Regions from separate parts of the Homo sapiens genome. Here all the other regions are reported to be linked to region 3. Evidence: microRNA targets listed by miRTarBase, many of them from high-throughput screens and not tested one by one. Region 3 holds a microRNA gene; each other region holds the end of a gene's coding sequence.

Evidence for each region. Region 3 holds the annotated microRNA hsa-miR-769-5p (UGAGACCUCUGGGUUCUGAGCU, at 2,359-2,380, opposite strand). A microRNA usually pairs through its seed, bases 2 to 8, with sites in the 3' UTR of a target mRNA and lowers its output. Matches are read on the target gene's strand: a 7mer-m8 pairs with bases 2 to 8, a 7mer-A1 pairs with bases 2 to 7 and ends in A, and an 8mer does both.
Region 1: miRTarBase lists HYCC2 as a target of hsa-miR-769-5p. Seed matches in the 3' UTR shown: 7mer-A1 at 2,413-2,419 and 7mer-A1 at 4,376-4,382.
Region 2: miRTarBase lists HOXD3 as a target of hsa-miR-769-5p. Seed matches in the 3' UTR shown: 7mer-A1 at 4,061-4,067.
Region 4: miRTarBase lists AEN as a target of hsa-miR-769-5p. The part of its 3' UTR that is shown has no 7-base or 8-base seed match.
Region 5: the mRNA of PRUNE2 is a reported target of hsa-miR-769-5p. Seed matches in the 3' UTR shown: 8mer at 4,225-4,232.

What each region holds. Positions count from the first base shown.
Region 1 is chr2:200,977,124-200,982,219 of GRCh38, reverse strand. HYCC2 (hyccin PI4KA lipid kinase complex subunit 2) reads left to right here. Exons shown (of 13, transcript NM_001321623.1): 13 at 349-5,096. The coding sequence ends at 950. The region is part of intron 1 of LOC105373835 (a long non-coding RNA gene); the gene reads right to left. Among named protein-coding and RNA genes, the nearest start is that of ORC2, 16 kb to the right of the region's middle.
Region 2 is chr2:176,171,364-176,176,466 of GRCh38, reverse strand. It overlaps HOXD3 (homeobox D3), which reads right to left. Exons shown (of 4, transcript NM_006898.5): 4 at 3,369-4,950. The coding sequence ends at 4,193. It overlaps HAGLR (HOXD antisense growth-associated long non-coding RNA), which reads left to right. Exons shown (of 3, transcript NR_033979.2): 3 at 1-3,278. Among named protein-coding and RNA genes, the nearest start is that of HAGLROS, 4.3 kb to the left of the region's middle. RefSeq lists an enhancer at 4,236-4,846.
Region 3 is chr19:46,016,238-46,021,340 of GRCh38, reverse strand. MIR769 (microRNA 769) reads right to left here and starts at 2,409; the gene lies at 2,292-2,409. It overlaps CCDC61 (coiled-coil domain containing 61), which reads right to left. Exons shown (of 14, transcript NM_001267723.2): 9 at 4,948-5,023; 10 at 4,508-4,647; 11 at 4,272-4,350; 12 at 4,037-4,094; 13 at 3,191-3,263; 14 at 2,725-3,051. The coding sequence ends at 2,954. It overlaps PGLYRP1 (peptidoglycan recognition protein 1), which reads left to right. Exons shown (of 3, transcript NM_005091.3): 2 at 1,694-1,815; 3 at 1,922-2,188. The coding sequence ends at 2,103. RefSeq lists a silencer at 4,419-4,478.
Region 4 is chr15:88,629,756-88,634,858 of GRCh38, reverse strand. AEN (apoptosis enhancing nuclease) reads right to left here. Exons shown (of 4, transcript NM_022767.4): 4 at 2,578-4,801. The coding sequence ends at 4,565. Among named protein-coding and RNA genes, the nearest start is that of ISG20, 6.7 kb to the left of the region's middle.
Region 5 is chr9:76,609,930-76,615,032 of GRCh38, forward strand. It overlaps PRUNE2 (prune homolog 2 with BCH domain), which reads right to left. Exons shown (of 19, transcript NM_015225.3): 19 at 1,447-4,671. The coding sequence ends at 4,641. All of the region lies in intron 5 of LOC105376095 (a long non-coding RNA gene), which reads left to right. Among named protein-coding and RNA genes, the nearest start is that of PCA3, 150 kb to the right of the region's middle.

The sequences.
Region 1 (5,096 bases), not on the chromosome of region 3:
ATATGGTCATTTCAGAAGAAGAATGATAGTGTATTATAAAAATTTATGTTAACAAACTGTTGTATTTTACCTAGTCGTTTTACATGCCTAAATATTGACAGTATACTAGATATGTTTGTGGATAGTTGTACAAAAACTGGACTAAATAAAGCTAAACTAACATCTATTAGCATAGTAGAATTCTGTGTAGATTAAGATTTCCCCTAAATTATTTAGGGGAAGTGTTGATAGTAGGGCCATTGACAACCTATAGCGAACATTGCCCAAGAGATAAGGTCAGTGTTGTTATTCACAGCTGCTTCTTATTTAATTTAGCTATTGCTGAGTCTGTCTGATTTGTTTTCTTAGGTGCTGAGGGTGTAAATGGAGGAGAGGAGTCTGTAAACCTGAATGATGCAGATGAAGGATTTTCATCAGGGGCTTCCCTCAGCAGTCAGCCAATTGGGACCAAACCATCCTCCTCTTCTCAGAGGGGAAGCTTAAGGAAAGTAGCAACTGGGCGTTCAGCCAAGGATAAAGAAACAGCCTCTGCCATCAAATCCAGTGAGAGCCCTCGAGATTCAGTAGTTCGCAAGCAGTATGTACAGCAACCAACTGATCTTAGTGTAGATTCAGTTGAGCTGACACCAATGAAGAAACACCTGAGCCTGCCTGCTGGCCAGGTGGTGCCAAAAATCAATAGCTTAAGTCTAATCCGGACAGCCAGTGCTTCCTCAAGTAAATCATTTGACTATGTAAATGGCAGTCAAGCAAGTACCAGCATTGGGGTTGGCACTGAGGGAGGTACTAATTTAGCAGCCAACAATGCTAATCGATACTCAACTGTCAGTCTGCAGGAAGACCGGCTAGGTCAAGCTGGCGAAGGTAAAGAGCTCCTCAGCCCAGGAGCCCCCTTGACCAAGCAGTCTCGATCCCCAAGTTTCAATATGCAGCTAATATCCCAGGTGTAGTTTTGACATCCTCCCTCATCTTTCTGCTTACCTTTTAAACTGAACATTTCATTGTGCAAGAAGACACTTCATCCCACATTGTGAAAATATTGGTCACTGTTATCAGATTTCATTTAGTTTAGGTATCTTCATACTGTATTTTGTATCAAAACAGCAATAAGGTTTTCTTTATCCCTCTTTCCTACATCTTCTCTTCACCTATCCCTTGTAAATGTGTTTGTGAAGCAGTATAAAATGGTTGCCTTTTCCATGCCTTCCTTTCTCCTTGGGTGATGTGCAATCCATCGTAGGCTGATCGGTCCCATTTCAACACTGTGAGACTGAGGGTACATTAGAGGAAATGGTGTATATGATCCCTATGAAACGATTCTTTGGCTTTTGTTTAAAAACAAAACGGGTTTGTTCTCATAATCTATAGAACTATGAAGATTACTGGATCATATTTTTTTCTCTTAACCAGGAGTGCCTCAGAGATTCTGCTATGACTTTGGACTTCTCTGAGTCTGTGCAATCATTTTCTGGAGAAGCATGGGGAAAGGTGGTAGACTGCTGCACTTTTTCATTAAAATGAGGGTAGCTCTTTCTCCACCCCCCCATCTCCTTTATCCCGAAGACATAAATGTTCAATTACGGAGGCATTTAAATCAAGTTGTGACCACCTCCATTGGAGGGCAGGACTCTTGATTGTGTAATTGATAATGCACTTTCTCAATGGCTGTATAGTCATTATTAACGTGTCTTCCCTCTTCCCCACAAGGACATATAAGGTCATTTCTGTCCTTCAAGTTTGGCCAACTAACAAATCAGAATCTGAGGGGCATGTTCTATTTCCCAGGAATGATTGACACTTTGGTGCTGGGGTTTTGTGGGGGCGGGGGGTAGTTTTTGTTTAGCTTTTGTGGAGATTGTGTGTGTGAGAGGAGATTTGATTTTTTTTTCTTCTTTTCCTTTGTGAGCTGATGGCTGAAGTGTAACAGTACATCTTCAGGTAAAGAGAGGGATTTCTCAATCTACTTTCTGTTATGTCAGACTATAAGAGAAACCCTTTCAGCTGCTTTCTAGATGTACCTAAATTCAGTCAGACATTTTGGATTAAGAAACCTAAAGTCCTGATACATTACATACTCCAAGGAAATATATCAGGGACAGACAATTGGCTGAAACACTGATACTTCAATGTGACACATTTTTATAGAACATTTCTACCAGGGGGTACTGACCTTGATTTCTCCTACAAGGACCACACTGCCTTTGTGTTTAATGTAATGCAATTTGTGTACCTTCTAATCATATATCTGCAGTTCCTCATTTTTATAAAACTTTGATATCATGCCAGTAAGCTAGATGTTGAATGTATGTAAGTAGCATTTGGTAACTGCTAAGAGGTTACAAAAACATTATTGGTAAAAAAAATTTCCTTAGTTCTGATCTGGTTGGATAAGATTTTATCATAACTTTTCTGGGTCTCAGGCTCTGATGTTTGAAAAAGAAGGGAATATATTGGGTTTTAAAAAAGTGTATTGTGACTTAAACTGTTATAAGTTATCCTTCCACAGAATACATCAGAGCTATCAGTGCTTTGTACATTTAGATGTTTTTACTTGATTATTGTTTAAGAAAAATATACTGAATTTATAGAAAGCAAGTATTCTCCTAATTAGCAAAAGTTAAAATTTTATCTCTACCATTAAAATTACAATAGATTTTGATAAATAACCAGAAAAAACGCCTTTTTTTTTTTCACACCTAGCAATCCTCCCGTTTTTATTGTAAGGACTTTCTTTTTTCCCTAAGAGACTTTCTGTTAGACTCTTTATATATGAGATGCTTGTTTAAATATGGTGGTCTGTAACATTTTTCCAGCTCATGTGAAAATGGAAAACTAGAACCTGAACTAGTATCTACAACATTGCCAAAGTCCAGGGTAAAGCTAAAAGTTGATAAGTAGACAATTTATTGTTTTGTGTGTGTCTGTGTGTGTGTGTGTGTGTGTGTGTGTGTGTGTATGGTGTGTATATGTATATATCACAAAGTTGTATTTTAAATATTTTAAATACCCTTTCTTTTAATTTAAGGGATGTCAAATAAATGAAAGGAGTTTAAAAATAGCCAAAATAAATGAGCTATAAAGGCCCATAACATACTAAAACAGGCAGTTTCAGGTATGTAAGGAAAGGAACATTATACTTACCTAGAAAGTGAGATCTAAAAAAAAATTAAAAATAAATAAAAAATAAAAAAGAAAGTGAGATCTTGGCTATGGCTGGAGGTCAGTCACTTTATGGCATAAATTATTTGGGAGGTAAAAAGACTGTTTTCAATTCAAATTGTGCATTTATTGGCATCTAAATCTAGCATGATTTTGGTTAGAGCACAAAAGAAATACCACATAATACCAAATCACAGCAAATGTTAGAATTAATACAACAAAATTTTCCTTTGGCTAGAAATCTTATGTTATACCTGAAAAATTGGTTTTAAAAAATGTTCATCTTGGCCGGGCACGGTGGCTCACGCCTGTAATCCCAACACTCTGGGAGGCTGAGGTGGGTGAATCATGAGGTCAGGAGTTCGAGACCAGCCTGGCCAACATGGTGAAACCCTGTCTCTACTAAAAATACAAAAAATTAGCTGGGCGTGGTGGCAGGCGCCTGTAATCCCAGCTACTCGGGAGGCTGAGGCAGGAGAATCTCTTGAACCTGGGAGGTGGAGGTTGCAGTGAGCCAAGAATGCACTACTGTACTCCAGCCTAGGCAACAGTGCAAGACTCCATCTCTGAAAAAAAAAAAAAAAAAAAAAAAAAAAGTTCATCTTAGAGGATTTTATTTATCTGTATGTATATACATATATGTTTGTATGTATACATACCCACATTAACATTTTATGACCCTGTAACATTTGTTTTCTATTCTTTTAGGTGATGTGAATTGACCTCAGTGAAGAAACATTTCATTTAGTCTAAGCCTTGCATTCAGGGTCTTACAACAGATTTCTTGTGCAAGAATTATTATTAGTTAAAATGGAAGGTGTTAGTTTAACAAACTGAGAGTCAAATTTTCTAAGTTTTTAAATATGCATTTTAACATGCATTATTTTTGGCATTTAATTTAAAATAGTTTTGTTTCATGTATACAACAGCTGTTACAGATATATGCCAGCAATATTCATACTTTTTTAACAAGCTTTTGTTATATATTTTCTAATCTCCATAAAAGTCTAATCATCTATGAAAAAGATATTTAGGGAGAAAATACTTGTTTTCTGTAATAAAACAATTAGGTTGGTGCCATGTATGCCAAGTTGGATAAAAGAATACAAAGAAACAGCTGAAGGTTTTGGGAGCTCGCTCTGACATTAATTACTAGAAAGCAAACTAAAATGCAAAGTGAATAGTTAACTCAGAAGATTTGAATTTTTTGAAATAGGGTCTCACTCTGTCCTCTAGGCTAGAGTGCAGTGGCACTATCACGGCTCACTGCAGCCTCAACCTCCCTGGGCTCAGGTGATCTTCCCACCTCAGCCTCTGGAGTAGCTGGAACTCCAGGCATGCACCACCACACCTGGCTAATTTTTGTATTTTTAGTAGAGACGAGGTTTTGCCATGTTGCCCAGGCTGGTCTCGAACTCCTGGGCTTAAGAGATCCACCCACCTGGCCTCCCAGAAGTGCTAGGATTACAGACATAACTACCACACCTGGCCTGAAGATTTTTAAATGTGAAAATATTTTAAGAAGCTAAGGGGAAAATCGTTATTTTAAAATCCTGATCCCCTTAACTTTACCCCTTACCATTCCCCTTACCTTTCCAATTCACTTTTGTCTATTTATTATAGAATCAGAATTGTGCTAAGAAGAAACCCTGGAGATAATCTAGCTAGTCTCCCACTCCCTCACCCCAACCTTCATCCTCAAGAAACAGAGGCTCAGAGGTTGTGGTGTGATCAAGATCATATACCTAAAGCAGAGCCAGAATCAAACCCAGTCTCCCATGGGTTTGGGGAGGCAGTGGGTTGTTAACTCCATTTTTGCAGTTTCTTTATAGTTCTGGTCTAGTAGTTGGTGAATACAACACATTAAGAAAAGTGTTAAATCCAGAAAAAATGTAGAGTAATCTAGATGGGGAAATGTTGGAAATGTTAAGTATATC
Region 2 (5,103 bases), not on the chromosome of region 3:
CTTTGTTATTCAAACACACACCCACACACATCCTCTGTAGTCTCCCTAATGAAAAACCTCAACAGATGGAGAGCCTGAGCTCCCAAGTCCGCAGGCTGAGAAGATGCACTTCACTCAAGGGCCAGTGGGCTGGTACAGACTAGGGAAGAGAAAAGGGACAAAGGCTGCTAGTATAGGTAATCACTATCTTTTAATACTCCTAACACATAGAAATTCGAAAAATCTTGTTCAGCAATGTTAGCAGCCTGTGAGCCTCGGAAACTAATTTGGCTGATGTGTCTCTGATAGGGAGCTTGGGGCTGCACCAAGGGGAAACATTCTCCTCCTGTATTCTCTCCTCTCTCTCGTTTGAAAGCCTGTACAAAGAAATGGTACAAATGGATGGTTAACTTAATGATTCCATCAGAGGCAGATTTTTCTCTGTCAGGTCCCTGGATAAGGTGGAGGTCTGAAAGCCAGGAGACAGAATATGTACTTAATCGCCCTTTCTGACCTGCTTACCAGTGACCAGGACTACTCTCCAGGCCTTTCTTCTGCCACTTCCCCATTCTTCCTGGCTAGTTCAGTTGGGTCTCAGCACTTCAACTCCTGGCTGGATCCTGAGTTTTTCTTGGTTGCAGGGAAAGCTCTCACTGTCTGCATCTCCTTCCCCACCCCCACCTCCCGTTTTGCAGCTGGCCATTCTGGCTGCCTCACAGCTATCCTGCCTTAATTCATATTTGATTGCCTGGACAGAACCACCTAGAATGTCCAGACGACTGCCACCCCTCAGCCATGGGCCTGAGATCCTGCCCTGACCCCTTTCTTCAGACCCCAGGAGGACCCACAATCTCCCTGATCCCCACCTTCCCCAAAGTAGTCTCTAGGAAAAAAGCAGAGCTGGCTAAGGCCTGAGACAGAGCCATTTCTTCCCCTTGGGCAAACGAGGTAGACCCTCCCAGAGACCAATGCCGGAGAGGCCCGGATCCGAGCTCCCTTTATATGGCCTCCCCCATCACGGATCCCGTGGGAAAACCTGACACACAATGGCGCGGCTGCTCCGGGCACCCTCAACCCAGCGCCCTGCGGCAAGGCCTGGAGCAGCCTGGTGGTCTTGGTGCGCTCCCTTTGCCCTCCCCGCAACCCTCTGCGAGCACTCGTCCCAGGAGAGAGACCCTGGCTAGGGTGGAGGTTGCCTCCCGCAAAGGGCGCTGTTGCTGGGGCCTCCCCTCCCCCATTCTCTTGTTTTTCTGCTTCTGAGACTCGGGAGGGAGGCGGCAGGCGCCTCCGCAGCCGATAGAGCAGCTATTGTGACCTTCCCTTGCAGAGCGGGAACCCAGCCGAGTGTGTACCGCCGGCGGTGGCGGGGGAGGAGGCGACTGTGTGTGCAAACCTCAGTCGGAGAGGGGGTGGCGCTGGGAAATAAAGGTTTGCAACCTCAGGCAGTTGGGCCCTTCAGAGGGCGTTTGGTTGTGTTTAGACTCGGTTGCTTTCTAACACTAATTGCAGGCTCAAAAGGAGCGGAATTTATTGCGAAGGCCAAGGCGGCTTGTTTATAATTTATGAAGTTTTAAATGGCTGTGCCGCGGGCCCCAACTTTCTCCTGGGCTGGCAGCCGCGCGGAAACGCGCCCTCCCCCGGCTCGCCGCCCACCCCCACCCACGCCCCTCAGATGAGTCTCACGCCAATGGCAGGAACAGATCCGAGCTATTAGAAGTCTCGGGAACCTCCAGAGATGACAGAAGGTGGCAGATTTGGTCCAAGCCCTCACCCCACTCGAGAGGAGGGCGTCGGGGAAAGCTGTGGCTGCCTGGAGAGGGAGCCCCTGATCCCACACTTCCTTGGAGCCTGAGTGTGAGAGGAAGCTAATGTCAGCCGGGCTAGACACCGTTTAAAGTCTAATCCATGAAACCCTAAGCCGCAAATGACACTTGGGGCTTTGCAGACACCCGCAGACTCAGCAGATACTCCTGCGGTAACACACTGTGCTGGAAAACGCCTGGAGCCATGACACATTACGTATTTTTATTATTATTTATGGTAGGAAGAGGAGATGAGGGAAAATCGGGCTGAATCTAAGCAGCCTGACAATTCAGCTAGTTAATATTTAGCCAGTTAAGAAAGGTGGTTGTAATCCCTGCAAGGCAGTGAGCTCTCCTTTGATTTCTCTAATAGCTTAAAAAATAATTTCTTACAAGACAATTAGAAATTCTGCCTATGGATGCAAATTTCATAGAAAACAATGTTAAGCCTTGAAAGTGGGTAAAATGTGCCTTCGATTGAAGTCATTTATTCTGTTGATACACTTCTACAACATATATATTTTAAACCTGCTCAGATAAAGTGAAATTTAGCAAAAGGATATCCCCTCCCACCCCCAAATCTAACATGCCATTTTAAAAACAGCACAAAGGAACAAGGAAACTAAATATTATTTTGAGCCATCATTACTTAGTGAAATACAAACATCCAAATAGAAACGATTGTTGTTCCACCAGAAGATTAGAAGTTAAATTATTTCCACACAATAGGAATTTCACTTCGTGTCATCGGGGATGTAGTAGGAGTTGCATTATTTGTCAAACCAAATAGAGATGCGTGGGCTGACTTTGCTGAAATACAAAAGAATTGAACCTTATCTGAAGGCGTTTTCTAAGTGGCCCCTCCCATAGAAGCCGGGAAGTTGTCCACCCCTAGCAGAAGCCACATTAATATTTACAAAATGGTTATAAATCCTTGAAGACATTTTTGCCCATTTTGTATAAGAAACAGGAGTAAACAAGGTGTTTATACTTGTTATGTTTCATTAATGAAATATTATTACTTTACATCTTGGGGAATGTTTGTTTTCTTTAGAAATGAACTAATGATCACTACAAAGGAAGAATTCATGACAGCATTTCCTAGAGAAAAAGCTTAGGTACGCGTCTCCAAATGATGGTTTCTTTTTCTACACCTTAGCTTTTTCATAGCTCAATTCTTCTTACAACTTCTCTTGTGTTTTTTCTTTGATTGTCAGTTTTCTTTCAAAGTTTATTTTTTGTTACTTAATGCAGAAAAGTGAGCTCTGGTCTCCCCAGTGTAAAAGTCGATTGTGTCTAGAAAGAAGGCAGTAAAAACAGCAAAGCAGGCGCTGCTTTCAAAAAGCCCTGCCCAAATCATCCCGCCCAGAACCTTCTTAGGTTTGCATCCTCATTTCCCCCTCCCCTAATTTCAATAGCTGGAAAGTAATCAAGTATCCCGAGAACCAATTTATGCACTAGACTCCAAATAAATAAAATATTTTTTTCAAAGTGTCAGTCTGTTTCGGGGCCTTCCATGGGGATTGTGCGAGATAAAGGCATAGTGATCTGCTTGCAAGTGTGCATGATTAACACAGATACAGTTCCGACTGGGAAATTTTTTTATTCTAAATATTTGTTCCAATAGTACCAGACAATTTGAAATCAATAAACTGTGGTGAGGACTGTGGTTTTTGAGAAATGACCAAAGTGTGTTGTGCCACGCCACCGGGCTTCCTGACTCTACCCATGAAGGACAATTTGCGGTCTTAATCCTTTATGTCAACTACAAACACCAGCCACGGTTACGACTGTTCAAAACTACTCTCTCAACTAGTTCAGACCAGGGGGACTAAGGAGGTGAAATGTGGCCCCCACGGCCTGGAAGCGAATTCCTAAGCTCGGCTGGATAAATCTACAAATATACACATAAATACATTCAGACAAGGATAAATAATCAGGGAACGAAATGACTCGCTTCAAATAATAAATACAGATAGTTTAGTCCGATGCAATCCTTACGGCACAGGAAGGAGAATATAAATTAAGGTCTCTGAAACTAAGCTAGACGCGGGCCAGGCCCAAGACTCTCCAAGCTCTGGTCCCTCTGCAGGGCGCGCCGCTGATGGGTCTCAGACTTACCTTTGGGACACCATTACCAGATTGGAGTCCCTTGGTCCGCAGTATGTGGCACTGTCAAATTTACAGGGAAGGATCCTTGCGGCTGATTTATGGCGAGTCACCCAAAGGACGCCCATGGAGGGGAGGCCCGGTCGCCTGCGCCTCCGCCGCTGGAGGCCTGAGACCCGGGAGGCGGCGGCAGGGCAAGAGCGGGGAAGGGGGTTCCCGAACTGCCCCGCGGGCCCCACCCTCTACCCCACCACTACAGCAAGAGAGGTAATTTTGCCGCGAGTTCGGGCTGGCGGCGGCCGCTACAGATGCGTCAGTTTGGGAGCCTCCGGCAGTCGTCCCTGAGACGAGTGGTGGGCCGAGAGATCTGTGTAGGTGGGATGAGGGTCGCAAGGTCCATGGTGGTGGTTGCCTGGAATCTGCGCGGCGCAACTGTAGTCCACGCTGGCCGACGACGGGTGCGAGAGGTGGCCCAGGTTGAAGACAGGCCCGGACGCGGGCGCCATGGACTCGACGAAGTTGCCGCCCACGTACACCGGGCTGCCCTGCAAGTTGGCGCTGGCGAAGCCGCCGCCGTTGCTCGCCATGGGATGGGGCTCGAACTCCGGCGCTGCGTAGCGCTTCTGTTGTGGCAGGCAGCTGCTGAGTGGCGCCGTGTAGGCGGCCAGGCCGTACATATTGGGCTGTGATTTGGCGAAAGCAGGCGGCGAGGGCGCGTCGTAGGCCAGGCCGGGCACTGGCGGCAGCTGGCCGGAGTAGGCCACGTGGCCAGCGGCGCCGCCGAGCGGTGGGCTGCGCTCAGGGGACTGGCTAGCCGGCGAGTGCAGGATGCCCTTGGCCTTCTGGTCCTTCTTGTACTTCATGCGCCGGTTCTGGAACCAGATCTTGATCTGGCGTTCCGTGAGATTCAGCAGGTTGGCCATCTCCACGCGGCGCGGCCGGCACAAGTAGCGGTTGAAGTGGAATTCCTTTTCCAATTCCACCAGCTGCGCGCTCGTGTATGCCGTGCGTACCCGCTTGGATGCTGGGCCTGGCGGGCTCTTGTCCTCGCAGCTCTCTCCTGGGCAGGGAGGGAGAGAGGGAGGGCGCTGAGCGAGTGGGTGGGGACCCTCAGGACTGGAGAGGGGTGCTTCCCTGGTTCTCTTTTCCTCCTCCCTCCCCCCACCTCCAATCCTGGCTGGGGAGGGGAAGGGCCGTTTGAGAGGTATGATTC
Region 3 (5,103 bases):
GTCCAAAGGTATTCCCAGCCCTTCCAGTTCAAGATTTTATCAAAGACTCCAACTTCAACATTTTGTTTCCAAGACTCAGGCGCTCTGATCCTAAGTGTTCCCATGAGGTCACGAAGGCCCGAGCCTCGGGTCCACATCACCACATACAGAAGCAGCCGCTGTCTGGCCCTCAGCTTTTAGGATTCCGAATCTGGTTCTAACGTTCTGAATCCCCTTTCCATGTCACGTCACCTTCTCTCTCTGAGCCTCGTTTCTTCACCTGTAAATGGGGCTTCTGACTGTACCCGCTTGGCGATGGTGGCTGAGGTTTCAATGAGATGCATTCATGCAACAAATGACCAGGGAGAACCAACCACCCCCGACCCCAGCACCATCATGCCAGGCTCCGGGAATATGGCAGGGCCATAACCAGCCAGTCCCAGCAGCCAGCATCACCAGCAGGGCCATAACCAGCCAGTCCCAGCAGCCAGCATCACTGGGGCCAGATTCTGGGAGCTGGCTTCCTAAGCAGCAGATTCGGGACTCAAGATTCGGAAGTTCCGACATTCTGTGCGTCATTAATGACACTGTGAGCGCGGGGGCTGAGTTGGCACATACTGCAGCTCCAAGGCACTGATCTTCTAGTTCATTCCCATTTGCCAAGTCAGACACGCTCAATCAGATGTGCTGAATGAATCAGCCTTAAGGATCTGCTGCCAGGCTTGGGAACCTCAAAGAGGCAGGTGCTGGGGCTCCAGGGTCGGTATCTGGTTACGACCCCAACTTTGAGTCTGTGATCCTGTCCCCCAGTGGACCCCGAGGGCAGGAAGCAAGCTGGGGCAAAGGCAGAGTTCTGAGAGGCAGGGGGCTCTGAGTAGCTTGTACAAATTATGTCGCTTTCTGAGTCTCTGCTCTCTCTGCTTAAGATGAGGATGATAAGAGTCCCTGCCTTGGCTGGGCACGGTGACTCATGCTTGTAATCCCAGCACTTTGGGAGGCCAAAGGCGGGCAGATCACCTGAGGTCGGGAGTTCGAGACCAGCCTGGCCAACATGGTGAAACCCCATCTCTACTAATAATACAAAAATTAGCCGGGTGTGGTGGCTCATGCTTGTAATCCCAGGTACTCAGGAGGCTGAGGCACGAGAATCACTTGAACCCAGGAGGCAGAGGTTGCGGTGAGCTGAGATCACGCCACTGCACTCCAGCCTGAGCAACAAGAGTGAAACCCCGTCTTAAAAAAAAAAAAAAAAAAAAGTCTCTGCCTCAGAGGGCTGTCCTGCAAGGATTCAGTAAAACAGGACTTCCACAAATCCTCTAGGGAGGCAGGAGAGAGCAACGCACAAGATCACATGGGTGGGGACCATGGAGGCCTGGTTAAAAACCCCAGCTGTGCCCCAGACAGGCTGTGTGACCCCGGGGCAGGTGATTCTACCGCTCTGATTCTGTCTATATAAAACGGGGGTGATAGTGACTCACAGGGTTGCTGTGAGGATGGAAAAAGGTGTATGCAGAGCTGTGCTTGGCACATGGCAGGGGCCCAATAAATGACCACAGTCATTGTTACTATCGTGGGAAATTAACGGGTGAGAAGGATGCTGGGGAAGTTGTGTGCACCACGGCAGTAACGGAGGCAGGGTGAGTGGAGGAAGGAGGAGGAGTCCTCCTCGGGAAACCCTCCCTCACTCATCAAGCCCCCCCACCTCCCCATGCAGCTTCCTGATTGGAGAAGACGGGCTCGTATACGAGGGCCGTGGCTGGAACTTCACGGGTGCCCACTCAGGTCACTTATGGAACCCCATGTCCATTGGCATCAGCTTCATGGGCAACTACATGGGTGAGTGACTGTCCAGCCAGTTGGGATGGGGGCTGACACGGGGCCCTACGCTATCACTTCCCCTTCGGGGAAGCCCCTGCCTGACTCCTACCTCTGCCTCCTCCAGATCGGGTGCCCACACCCCAGGCCATCCGGGCAGCCCAGGGTCTACTGGCCTGCGGTGTGGCTCAGGGAGCCCTGAGGTCCAACTATGTGCTCAAAGGACACCGGGATGTGCAGCGTACACTCTCTCCAGGCAACCAGCTCTACCACCTCATCCAGAATTGGCCACACTACCGCTCCCCCTGAGGCCCTGCTGATCCGCACCCCATTCCTCCCCTCCCATGGCCAAAAACCCCACTGTCTCCTTCTCCAATAAAGATGTAGCTCAAAATGTGTTCCTCAGCAGGTCCCACCACACACCTCCCCTCCTTCTCTCCCTCCCACAAGACCAAAGCCCTCCCACCCCTTCCCCTCCCAGCACTCTCCTCACTGGTGCTTGGAACCCAGAGGCCCCGGCCCTGAACCAAGACCCCGGAGATCCCAGCTCGAGAGCAACATCACAGCTCAGAACCCAGAGGTCTCAGGTCAGAGCCCAGGAATCAGCACCAAGGCGGCCGGGATGTCACCAACAGTGGGTCCTGGGGGTCCTCCTGGGCAGTGAACCACGCTGCAAGACACCTCCTTCCCACCACACAGCCAAAGGCATCCTGCGCAGAAACTTTGCTTGGACTCCTTTAGGGACGGGCTGCTCACTACTCCTCCCAGGTCTGCCCTTGCACTGTTTAGAGAGTGTACAAGCTTTTCCTAGGCCTGAGTCCCAATCTGCCTCCGAGGCACAGACACACAGGTCCCAATTATACCCCCCAATTTCTCTTCCTCCACATTTCTCCCCACTCCACCCTCACCCTTTAGTCATAAGCTGAGGGGTCCCCAGGGCAAATATGTTTATTTACAAAATGCACACATCCTCCCTCCCAGCATGCACTGCCTGGGGAGAGGGCAGGGTCAGGGCCTCACACACCTGAGACCCCAGGGGCAGCAGGAGGGACGGGGCCAGGGCAGGGACTGGGCAGGGCTGGAGGCCACCCTGGCCCCACCCCCCACACCATACCCAGCAAGTGGGTGGGGGATGGAGGGGTAGTACCCCTTCTCCACGTTATGACCGCATGTCCAGTCGGTTCATGTACTCCTGCAAGGCCTTCAGGCGTGCGTCTATTTCGGCCATGTCAGCCGCCTGGTGCTCCGAGCTGTACTCTGTGAGAGCAGGTGTGGGTATGGGGGCTGTGAGGGGCCTGAAGCCCCAGGGAGTTCCTGGGCCCAATATACCACTGCCCGCACTACCATTCCAACGGGTCCTGGGGCTGGGAGAGGGGATGTGGAGTCCCAGGCTCACCTTTGATGGGGACCCAGCCCCCGGAGTTGGCCAGAGATTTCTGATGGTGGCTGCGTTCCACGGGGGGAGACTTCTGGTGATGGGGAAGGTAGGAAAGGGGGTCACCCACCGTCCCTCTATTTCTGTCCCCCTAAATCCCACTGGAAATCCTGAGCCTAAGGACCTTGGGGAAAAATAAGGCCTGACACCTACTGGCCATTCATTATCTGCAAAATAACCTCCTAATGTCCTCACAGAGCCCTCACCTCACATGTGAGGTGATGCCATTACCAACCCTGGTTAACTGATAAACAAAAACTAAGGTACAGAGAGGCTAAAGAACTGCCTTGAACCATACAGCTGGGAAGAGGAGGAGACAGGTTTCAAGACCTGACAGTCAGAAGCCAAAGCCCTAAAGAGCATCACGTGCCCCTCATTATTCCTTCTCCAATCTAATGCTCTCAAAACGTGCTGTTCCCAGGCCAGGTGCGCTGGCCCAGCCTGTAACTCCAGCGCTGTAGGAGGCTGAGGATGGCTTGAGGCCAGGAGTTCCAGACCAGCCTGGGCAACATAAAGAGACAATACCACCCCCTTATCCTGTCTCAACCCCACCCTGCCCCCCCAAAAAAGCCTAGTCCCAGCTACTCCATAGGCCGAGGTGGGAGGGTCTCTTGAGTCCAGGAGTTGAAAGCTGCCGTGAGCTACAATTGCCCCACTGCACCCCAGCCTGAAAGAGCGAGACGCACTCTTAAAAAAGCCCTATTGCCAAAGGCATTCAGAGTCGCCTCTGCACCTGATCCCCAGGAAGGAATCACAGGAAATGGGGGCAGCTGTGTTCCAGTGGTTTATGTTGCCCCTTCTACTCACCATATTGGACCCACTCCAGGGCGTTGGGCTGGGAGGCTTCCCACGGCGGCGGTGACCCCTGAGAAAAAGGAGTAACCAAGGACCAGTGGTGGGGAGGCTCTGGTACTTCCCACCTCCCCGACCTTTGTGGTTTCAAGGCCCCCAGGCTCCATCACCCAATTTCCCTGCAAAAGACTGTTTCTAGTCTCCCCAGAAACCCTTTGGAGGCGATCCTTTTCCCAAGTTCAAGTTTTACCCTCTGGAGAGCGACTCAGAGAAATCCTCCAAATCGCTGCAGGAGCTGGCAGACGAGCAGCGGCTGCGGAAACTGTCCACTAGAGGGAGACGGAGGGCGTGACCGCTGGCCCTCGCTGGCCCCGCCCAGTGCTTCCCAGGCCCTCCCAGCCCGCCCGCCCTGCCCAGTGCCTCCCAGCCCGCCCAGCCCCGCCCAGTCCCGCCTAGCCCGGCAGCCCCCAGCTCCAGGCCAGTTACCTGAGGAGCTGCGGTTTCGGGAGCGGTTAGGGGCGTCCCCTCGGCCAGTCAAGGCAGCAGGGGGCTGGGTCTGGCGAGACCAGGAGACGGACGGACCGTCCCCGCTTCCCCCACTGCCTAAGCGGTTCCGCTGCTGCTGCCTGGGAAAAAAGAAAGGAGACGCCGGTCTGTACGCCCAACTCCTGCAGGCAAGGGGGTCACTGCGCCCCTAAAGGTCACAGCCACGCCAGCGAAAGCCTGAGGTGACAGGCCTACGAGCGGAAAGCACGCAGAAACACAGACGAGGAGGTAGGACGGACGGAAGGGAGAGCAGGCGGGGTATCCGGCGAGAAGCGAGCAGGTGGCAGGGGATGGAGACTGATGGTGGCGTGGAGAGATGAGAGCCCGGGAGCGGGCACGGGCCAGGGACAGGGGCAGGTGAGGGAGGAAGGGGCACTGACTTCATCTGGATCTCTCTCTGCTTCCTTTCCTTGGCTTTCACAAAGGCCGTGGGGTCGAAGCGGAGCGCGCGACCACCTAGGACGGCGTGGGAGAGGAGGCGGCTAGGTCCGGAGACGGGCCTTGGCAGCGCCAGTGCGTCCCCTCCCTACCGCAGG
Region 4 (5,103 bases), not on the chromosome of region 3:
GCAGATCCCATGAGCCCAAGGGTTCAAGACCAGCCTGGGCAACATAGAAGACCTCGTCTCTACTAAAAATGTAAAAAATCAGCCAGGTATGGTGACATGCACCTGTAGTCCCAGCTATTATACTTGGGAGGCTTAGGCTGGAGGATCACTTGAGCCTGGGAGGTTGAGGTTGCAGTGAGCCAAGACTGTACCACTGTACTCCAGCTTGGGTGACAAGTGAAACCCTGTCTCAAAAACAAAAACGAAAAGCAAAAAACTAGAATATTAGCAATTTCATGTGGTTTAATACATGTAAAACTATGCTGATACATATTACAAAACACATGTTAAGAAAATTAGTTAAAAAGGAACTGTATACCAAAAAGCATGTAAGAAGATGCTCAATATTACTAATGATTAGGGAAATGCAAATCCAAACCACATCATCTCATACCCATTAGGATGGCTGCTATGGAAAAACAGAAAAAAATGTTGGCAAGGACGTGGAGAAACTGAAACCCTTGTTCACTGTTGGTGGGAATGTAAAATGGTACAGCTACTAAAGAAAACAGCACAGCAGTTCCTCAAAAAAAACTATAGGCCAGGCGCGGTGGCTCACGCCTGTAATCCCAGCACTTCGGAAGGCCGAGGCGGGTGGATCACCTGAGGTCAGGAGTTCCAGACCAGCCTGGCCAACATGGTGAAACCCCGTCTCTACTAAAAATATAAAAATTAGCCAGGCGTGGTGGCATGCGCCTGTAATTCCATCTACTTGGAAGGCTGAGACAGGGGAATAGCTTGAACCCAGTAGGCAGATGTTGCAGTGAGCCAAGATCGCGCCATTGCACTCCAGCCTAGATGACAAGAGTGAGACTCTGTCTCAAAAAAAAAAAAAAAAAAAAAAAAAAAAAAATTACCATATAATCCAGCAATTCCCCTGCTGGGTATATATTCAAATAAATTGAAAGGAGGGTCTTGGAGAGGTATTTGTACACTTGGGAGCACTTTCAGCATGTTCATAGCTGCATTATTCACAACAGCCAAGGGGGGAAGTAACCTAAGTATTGTTGACTGACAGATGAATGGATAAACAAAGCATGGTATATACATACAAAAGATCATTCAGCCTTAAAAAGAAAATTCTAGCCAGGTGCAGTGGCTCACTCCTGTAATCCCAGCATGCTGGGAGGCCAAAGCAGGAGGATCACTTGAGGCCAGGAATTCAAGACCAGCCCGGGCAACATAATGAGACCCCGTCTCTAAAAAAAAAAATAAAAAAAATAGTTGCCAGGCATGGGGGCACATGCCTGTAGTCCCAGCTACTTAGGAGGCCGAGACAAGAGGATAACTTGAGCCCAGGAGTTTGAGTCCAGCCTGGGCAAGAGTCTCTTAAAAAATAAAATTCTGACACATGCCACAACATGGATGACGACACTGTGCTAAGTGAAATAAGCTCGTCACAAAGTGACAAATACTGTATGATTCCACCTGTATCAGCTATCTAGTCAAATTCATAGAAGTAGAAAGTAGAATGGTAGTTGCCAGGGGTTGAAAAAAGGGGGAAATTGCTGGGCGCGGTGGCTCACACTTGTAATCCCAGCACTTTGGGAGGCTGAGGCAGGGGGATCACCTGAGGTCGGGAGTTCGAGACCAGCCTGACCAACATGGAGAAACCCTGTCTCTACTAAAAATACAAAATTAGCCGGCCGTGGTGGCGCATGCCTGTAATCCCAGCTACTCGAGAGGCTGAGGCAGGAGAATTGCTTGAACTCGGCAAGTGGAGGTTGTGGTAAGCCAAGATCACGCCATTGCACTCCAGCCTGGGCAACAAGAGTGAAACTCTGTCTCAAGAAAAAAAAGGAATAAAAGAAAAAAGGGGGAAATGGAAAGTGTCAGTTTCACAAGATGAAAGAGTTCGAGATCTGTTGCACAGCAATGTGGATACAGACATAACACTATTGAACTGTACACTAAAAGTAGTTAACATAGTAAATTTTCTATGTGTATTCTACTACAATTAAAAACTTTTTTTAAGTGAGTACATAGCTTCAGGGAGAAACAAAAAAGTTAAAACAAATATGGCCAGGTGCGATGGCTCCTGTTTGTAATCCCAGCACTTTGGGAGACCGAGGTGAGTGGATTCCTTGAGTCCAGGAGTTTGAGACCAGCCTGGCTAACATGGTGAAACCCCGTCTCTACTAAAAATACCAAAAAAATTAGCTGGGCGGGGTGGCGCATGCCTGTCATCCCAGCTACTTGGGAGGCCAACGTGGGAGGATCTCCTGAGCCTGGGAAGTCGAGGCTGCAGTGAGCCATGATTGCACCCTGCACTCTAGCCCAGGCAACAGGAGTAAGACCCTGTCTCAAACAAAAAACAAAACACAAAACTTGTGCTCTGTAATAGGGCAATAAGAAATAAATTATCTAAATTCTGTAGCTCTGCTAGTTTCTTGCTGGAGCCCACTGCATCCTCTTGAAAACTGCCTTCTCGAAGTCCAAAGCACCCAGCAAGGCTTAGTGCCCCAGTCCCCCTCCCAAACCCCCAATGAGCCACCCTCCAATCCCAGCTTGAGAATTCACAGGAAGGGCCACTTCACCCACGTTTCCAATTGAGTTTTATTCTAGAACAAATGGTTTTACAACAAAGCTGATCTTAAATAGTACATTTCCCCGCTGATAACAGCACCATCTTCCTTCGACCCCCAGACCAAGGGATCAAAGCTACTGCTCAATTGAGTTTGACATCAGCTACCGACTTTTAAGGAATCTAGAACAAAGTTCTGGAGCCAGGCCAGAAGTGGTAAAAGATTCAGTTAGCCCCTTCCTCTGTGCTGTGCTGACAGGGAGGGAGCCAGTGACTGGACAATCTATGACCCCAAGTTTGTGGAACGTGGGGCTTCAGCTGAGGGTGGGGTAGTGTGATTTCAGCAGTGTCTGTACCTCCCTGACCCCTGCGCTGCTTTGCTCTGTTGTCACCTCCCGCACAGTGTCGGGACACTGACCGGAAGCCAAACCTGTGCCTGGTGGCCACAGACAAGACACACGGATATCCGTGAACCTTGCTGCTGTGCCCTCACCGAGGCCAGCGCCCCACCTGCTGGAACAGCCAAGCCGGAGCAGTTCTGTCTGGGCCACAGCTGCTCAGCCTGTGGACTCAGGTGTTATCCTGAAGAAGTTACAACAAATTCTCAAAGAATAAACAATGGGCTTAAAAAAAAAAAAGGGGGATAAACAGAAACTCACAGTAGCTGTGGCTCACCATGTGCCAGGCACTGTGCCAAGCACTTCACATTTAGTGCTCATTACAACCCTATGAGGTAGGCCGTACCACTATCCCCACTTTACAGATGAGGAAAAAACAGCCTCAAGAGTGAAGTCCCTCGCTTGCTTAGTATCTCAAAGCTAAGCTGCAAGCAAAGATGGGGCTCCAAGGTCTGTGTGACCTGAGCTCTTGGTTATCCAATACTTCAAAACTGTCACTTAGGAAAGAAGAGAACATTTTTAGAAATAGGAGAAAACCCAACAGCCACAGTGATTGTCAAAGAGCTGAGGGGGCATCAGACCAGGTTCGGGGGCACCAGACCAGGTTCAGGGCCACTGCGTAACTGCCAATGCCCTGCCCCAGCCCCAGGAGACACGCAGACTCCACTGCCCTAGACGAGTGGCCCTGCTGTTAATAAATAAATAAAGGTCAGGCACAATCCTACACAAAGGCCCCAGAATTCAAACCACTGTCTTGTTTCTCAGACTTTTGCTTAAGAGCCCAGTACTGGGTGGACTGGGGAAATCCCTGATTTGGGTCAAAATAAATATGCCAGTTCTCGTCCAAAGCTTACCTGCCTTCCCTCCTCCCTGAGCTGTGCCTGGGGCTTTCTGTTGCCAAGAAATGTTAAGGAGCCAACTCCCCACGAGAAGCCTGTGGGCTCTGCTATTCCACTGTAGCCTAGCAGGGAGCTGACAGGCCAGGCACGGAGTTCCTACAATGGCTGTAGCCAGAGTTCCAGGTCAGGGAGGTGGGGAAGAAATGCCTCCTTTAGGACTTAACTCCTCTTTAACTTCAGGACATGTTTATTCTGAACCCAAATGAGTGGAGGAAGAGGTAGGCAACAAAAGGAAGAGAACTTTACCCCCAAGTCATTGAGTTGGGGTAAGGGAGCTCCAGGATATTGACACCCCCACCCACCATCCCCAGAGAGGATGATATGATCCCTTTCATTAGCACAGCATGATGACTCAGGAGATCTGGGGGGTGGGGAAGGCCACGGCAACCTGGGCAGTCTGTTGGCACATTCCCTACTCCTGCTGGGCCCTAGAAGATGGTCCACCTGACATCTCCATGGAGTCTGTAAAGTGCCATTAGCAAAACCACAGGAGTCAGAAGAAAGAACCAACAGCCCTGGAGAGAGAGAGGGCTATGCTGTGTGCAGAGGGTGTCAAGGTAACAGATGACCCCTACTCCTCTGGCCCTGGGGCTGGCTCACTGCATCCTGCCCCACCCTGCCCAGGAAGGAGTGCCCGCTGCTCTCCTGGCCCCCACTTCCTACCGGCCACACCGGAAGCCCAGCCAGGGAGCCCCGCCCCCTTCTCAATTCCTTCTGTCCTGTGCCTCCCTGGCTCCTCCTCTGCTGCCGTGGGCCAGGTCATCGGGCCAGTACTGGTCCTCCATGTACTGTTCCATGTCTGTGCTGCTGTCAGGTTCTCTGTCCTCGGGGCAGGTCCAGAGGCTGCGGGCCTCCTGCTGTTCCCACTGCACCTCCACCAGCCGGTAGAGCTCCATGGCTGTCGTGGCATCTTCTACTGATGAGTGCCCGTGCTGGCCCACCTACTGACGAGAGCCAACACATCACTGCCTGCAGGCCTAGTGAGAGGCCTGTTACCCCAAGAAGCAAGGCCAGTTTCCCAGGGCTCTTTGTGCAGGCCCAAGAATACGTATGCTCAGAATGGAGGTTCACAGAAAAGGGATGGAACCTCAACTGTACACCATAAGCCATGCAGCTTCTCCAAGCCTGTTTTCCTCAAATATAAGGCATGCTAAAAATCTCTTGCTTCAAAGGCTTGCAGATCAGATGAATAATAAATGTGAAGCCCAACAGGAGCAAGAGGTACTGGCTCCTCCTGATCTAA
Region 5 (5,103 bases), not on the chromosome of region 3:
AGTTATTGGTGTCTAATGTCTAAGTATCATTGGAATGGTTATATCTTGAGAAGAAATAATTTTGTCTAGTTAAAGAGGGTTATTTTGAATGGATGTGAATGAAACTATCTAGGAAAATCAGGCTCGTGAGGCAATCTGCTTGCTCCGTAAAGCCCACAGCTGTGTGAGGATTGATGTGTCAAAAGGCACCAGCTCTGAATTAAAAGTTCCATGACTGCACAGGATGATGCAACCCAGGGCGGGCTTCTGGCACGCTGCAGCACATGGACACAGCCAGCACAGGGACACTGCACACACAAGAGAAGCTGTAGAAGGGAATGGCTCCTCAGGGATCCACAGTGCCCCAACACAGCTTTTCTGTAATCTATGACTGAAAGTCTTGGCTTCCACGACTGAAGTTGTCTTCATTTTATTTATTTTTAACTTCAGCTTATAAAAGGCCCCTTATGATTTTGATTTTTAATTAGGCTCCCAACTTTATCACTGATCTCCATGCCCTACCCTTACCCAAATGAGTGTGTTAAGTCCTTAAATACACATGGATTTTGGATAATACGTAGTTTTGTGTGTGTATGTTTAACAGTTATGTAAGTGGCACTGTGCTATAAACATCGAGTTTGTTCTTTTTCCGCTCTACCCTATGATTTAAGTGTTGCTTTATGAACATATAGTATGTTGCTTCTCACAGCTGTGGTATACTAAAAGGTGTATTCAGCACGATTTACCCAGCCCTTTCCCTAGTGCTGGACACCTAGCCCACCTCCAGTTTCCACCACCATAGTTAGGTACGAGAGCAGAATGAATGTAGCAGTACGTCTTGTAGTTGAATGTCCTTCCTTTGCCTGCAATTACTTGTCAGCCTTTTCTTCTGTTTCTTCCCTTTCTTGGGTAGAGGACAATATCTACCAGAACTCATTTTTAGATCATGAGAACATGCAACGTCTCACTTCTTGTAGAGCAATTTCTCCTTTGGCTAGTCCAACAACTTTCTCAGAGGTACACATGTGTTTATTAAGTTAAAAAAATAGCACAGTGGTAATTCTCAACTCTGGTTTTGCCTGAAGGTTGTGAAAATGGGGAAAAAACCCCAACTAAAAATAAAATGATATTTAAACATTTTAATTTAAAAATAAATATATGCCATAAAAAGGCAAGGGGAAGAGAGAGGAAAAGACAAAAATCAAGTAACCATGAAACATGGAGATGTTTCCAAAGTAAGAAATCGCTTATCCACAGAGTAAACAACAGTTTGAAAGCTCGGTGTATTGAACTCTGAGATAGGAAAGGCAAAAATGAAGAGAGAATAAAGTTTGGGTGTACAGAAAAACCAAAATGTATACAGTCCTCCAGTACCAAGTGCCAAGCTAGATTGATGTTGAGATAAAACTGCTGCAAAGTGAAGCCAGAGAAAAATTCTTGCTGACTCAAAGAAAGAAAACCATCACATGCAGAATCAATTTTTATTTCTGAATTATACAGTGAGGCTATATAGATATATTGTGTCATTAAAGACTTTTATATTATTAATCTACATTATGGAGAATTTATTTACCAAAACGAAGTCTAACAGACACTTTATTCTGAGCAATCCAATGCATGATAGAAAAACCTTTAGATATATAAAAGATTAATTTGTGCACATCTAAATGTTTCTAAGGGAACAAACTACTGAGGCATTGTGATAAGACGAGAGTTGCAAACATAGTACCATAACTGAATATTTAAAATTACATCTTAACAAAGGCTAGGAGTAGTGACTTCCTCACACACCTCAGAGAATGTCTTAGAGAGTAACCCCATAGAACATTGTATGGCTTCAACAGAAACTTCAGGATTTTCTTCCACACTGAGCTACTGCCCTCAAACAAACTTTCTCACTCCTTGACACTATCTTCTGTGCAAATTTCTGTTCTTTCTCTTAATCAAGGAGCTTTGAGAAACAATGCTTTTGCCCCAATGACCCCTTGGTTCCCTTAACTACAGATCTATAGGAGAAATGCAAAGCAGTTCCCAGAAGTCAGAACCAAAGCAAGAATGTTCAGAGTGCAAGAGCTAGAGAGCTAAATCATGTGAATGTTTACCTCTGTCTACCTATCTGCTTAGGGATTATTTTTCTAGGATTCATCTAGGATTCTATTTACTTGGGGTGAATGTACATGGTAGCTTTTCCCTAGCACATGCAATTAAATTAATTTGTCTTTTAAGATAATAAAATAGCAGATACCTAAATATCAGAGTGGTTATGCAGCCTACAGAACAGCTGAAACAAAATCATTGGGACAAATGCCCATAATTTTCATGTAGGAAGATGAGGCTTCAAACAGCATACCACCTGAGTAGTTTTCCATAGATGAGCTGGACAAGTTAAAAATATATATATAAATGGTGAGATTGTTGCTGTGTCTGTTTGGCTATAACAAGAGCCCTCTATGAACAGCTCTATGCCCTCAGGTTTGCACCACTACACTGAACACTGGATTTTTCATTACTTCCTGTGACAGGGTGACCATGGAATTCATTTTACAAAATGGGATGCTACTGAGTGAAAGTAGCAAATAGGTGAACAAACAGGAATATTGGGTAACTGTATTTACGTCAACACTGTGTTCTGGGAGAGGTGTAATTTGGGCTTTCAAAAGTGGAGGTGGGCTGTGGGAGGGGGTGGGCTGTAGGGTTTTTCTGTCCAACAAGCCAGATGTTATGAAGGAGGAGATCCAACAGAACATACAATTCAACAAGATACTCGCTTGAAAGGATCAAGAGGAGAAAAGAGAAAACGATGGAGGCTTATGGAGGAAAGAGGGCTGAACTGCGTGTGTGTGGGCACGTGCGGAAGGACGGGAGGAGACAGAGGTGAAGCAATGAGGTCAGAGAAACTCAATCACCTGTGCAAAGATGTCGACTTTAAAGTAGTTACAAGCTCCTTCTACCCAGGACTCCAAATATCCTGGACAGCTCTCCCCAATGAATTTTCCACCATGAGACTAGGGTGGAACCGCTCTCACCCCTTCATTTTTATTTCTGCCAGCTTCTTTGTAATAGGAGACACTGGAGACTAAGAATGGTTCCCAGAGTGAGGCACGGACTTCAGCCAACACCTGTATATACTAAAGAAGTGCTTCTAAGAAGGCTTCATTTTGGCAATTGCAACCTAAGCAGTGATTTTGTGGCTAGGACTCCTCATGTTTTTCAGCAAGCCATTTCTTTTATTTCACTGTCTGTGGATGTCAAAACATTGATTTTTGACAAAAATAAATTAGTTTGCAGCCTCATTTGTCCGTTCTGTTAGAGAAACTATCTAAATACAAATTGGGGTGGAGTAGGAAAGGATGCGTTTGCTAGAGCAGGGGTCAGCAAACTTTTTCTGTAAACATAGTCAATGTTTTAGGCATTGTGGGACATACGGTCTGCTGAACTGCTCAGCTCTGCGGCTGTAGTGTGAAAGTAGCTGTAGACAGTACAAAAACAAGTTTGTGTGGCTGTGTTTCAGTACCACTTTATTTATCGGCACTAACATTTGAATAATTTTCATGTGTCATGAAATATTCAAAAAAAATTTTTCCAACCCAAAATGTAAAAACCATTCTTAGCTTGCAGTGGTGAGCGAGACTTAGCTGTGGTTTGCCACCCCACCTCACTAGAGGCCTACAGACTTGAAATCTTGTTGGCATTTTAAAGGGCATATGAAGACTATAAAGGAAATATTTTGTACATGAAAGTAATACTCATATTTAATTTTAAGCCTATGATCAGATTACGGTGTTTTAAAGCAGATCACTTTTTATAATGCATGCGAGAGAGGAATTCATGAATAACTGAATGCTACCAAATGATTTTTGAGTAGGCCACCTTGCACTTGAGTTCTTGGCACTTAAAAGGTAACCTCTGGAGCTGAGTTTATGGCCTGAAACTCAGAGAGCTACCAAACATGCAACACGGATTCTTAAATTTCACAATGTGGTGGTCACCAACATTCATCAGGAAAATGATGTTAAAAGACCAATTTACATAAAATATAATGCCCAATTTGACAACTAAAATAAAGTTGACGTGGATTAGAAAGCCCGGCTTCCCTTTGAGAAGTTAAAGGAGATTCTGGTAAACAAGAACAAAACGGGCACTTAGCTGATGATGGTTTTACACCTTGTGTGGTTTGTGGCTGTCCTAGTCAGGCTTAGGATTTTAAAGGTGGAGTCAAACAGGGGAAACTTTCCTGGGGAGAGTTGAGACCTGTGTACTTTAAACCTAATGCAATCACCAAAAGGAAATCCAGCTAATCTATGGAAACAAATCCACTCATACTTAACAGTGGATTAAAGGTATCTTACTGGTAAACACCAGTCTAAGGGACAAAGTATCACTACACCGTGTTAATGAAGTATTGAAATGGAAGGTCCTACTTTCTTGCTAAGGCTCAACTAAAATCTTTGAGGCACATAATTGGCAAAATAGGAAAGTACACACAATTTCATAAAATATCTTAAGAGTAAACAAACTTTCTATTTTTCCCCTTAGAAATTTAGAATGGCACCAGGTAGTGCAAAGTGGAAAAAGGTAACATCAGCCCTGTCTCTTTCAGGTAGATATGTTTCAACAGAACCATGAACCAGAAAAGCATCCTCTTCTTCCAGCATGGCCAACTAAGGCTTTTCTTTCAGCTTCAAGTCAATACTGCAAAGAAAAGAAAAAGAGAGAGAAACATGAGAAACCAAATGAGAGACATTTAGTAATGATTTGGGTAGCACTGTGTTTGCTTTTTTCCTCAAAGGACATACTGAAAATATTTAAATCATGCAAGTTTCTTATAATAGAAAAATCTGGTAAAACCCAATCCTCCTCTTGTCAGGCTTTTCTCCAACATATGAAATCTGTTTAGTTCTACAAAATCGTTTCTGGAAGCATTTTACACCTTTTCAAAATGATCCAGGGAGGTAAAAAACTCATGTAAAGGCTCATTCCCAAAGTCAATTAAGATAAGGAGCATTAGTGTATTCCAGAAATCATGCCATTTTATTTAATAAGTGACCTTTCCTTGTGAAGCAAACAAATGTTCTGCCTCAAGTAAGTAATGTCTGACAAGCACTAAATAGTAAGAAATGGTAA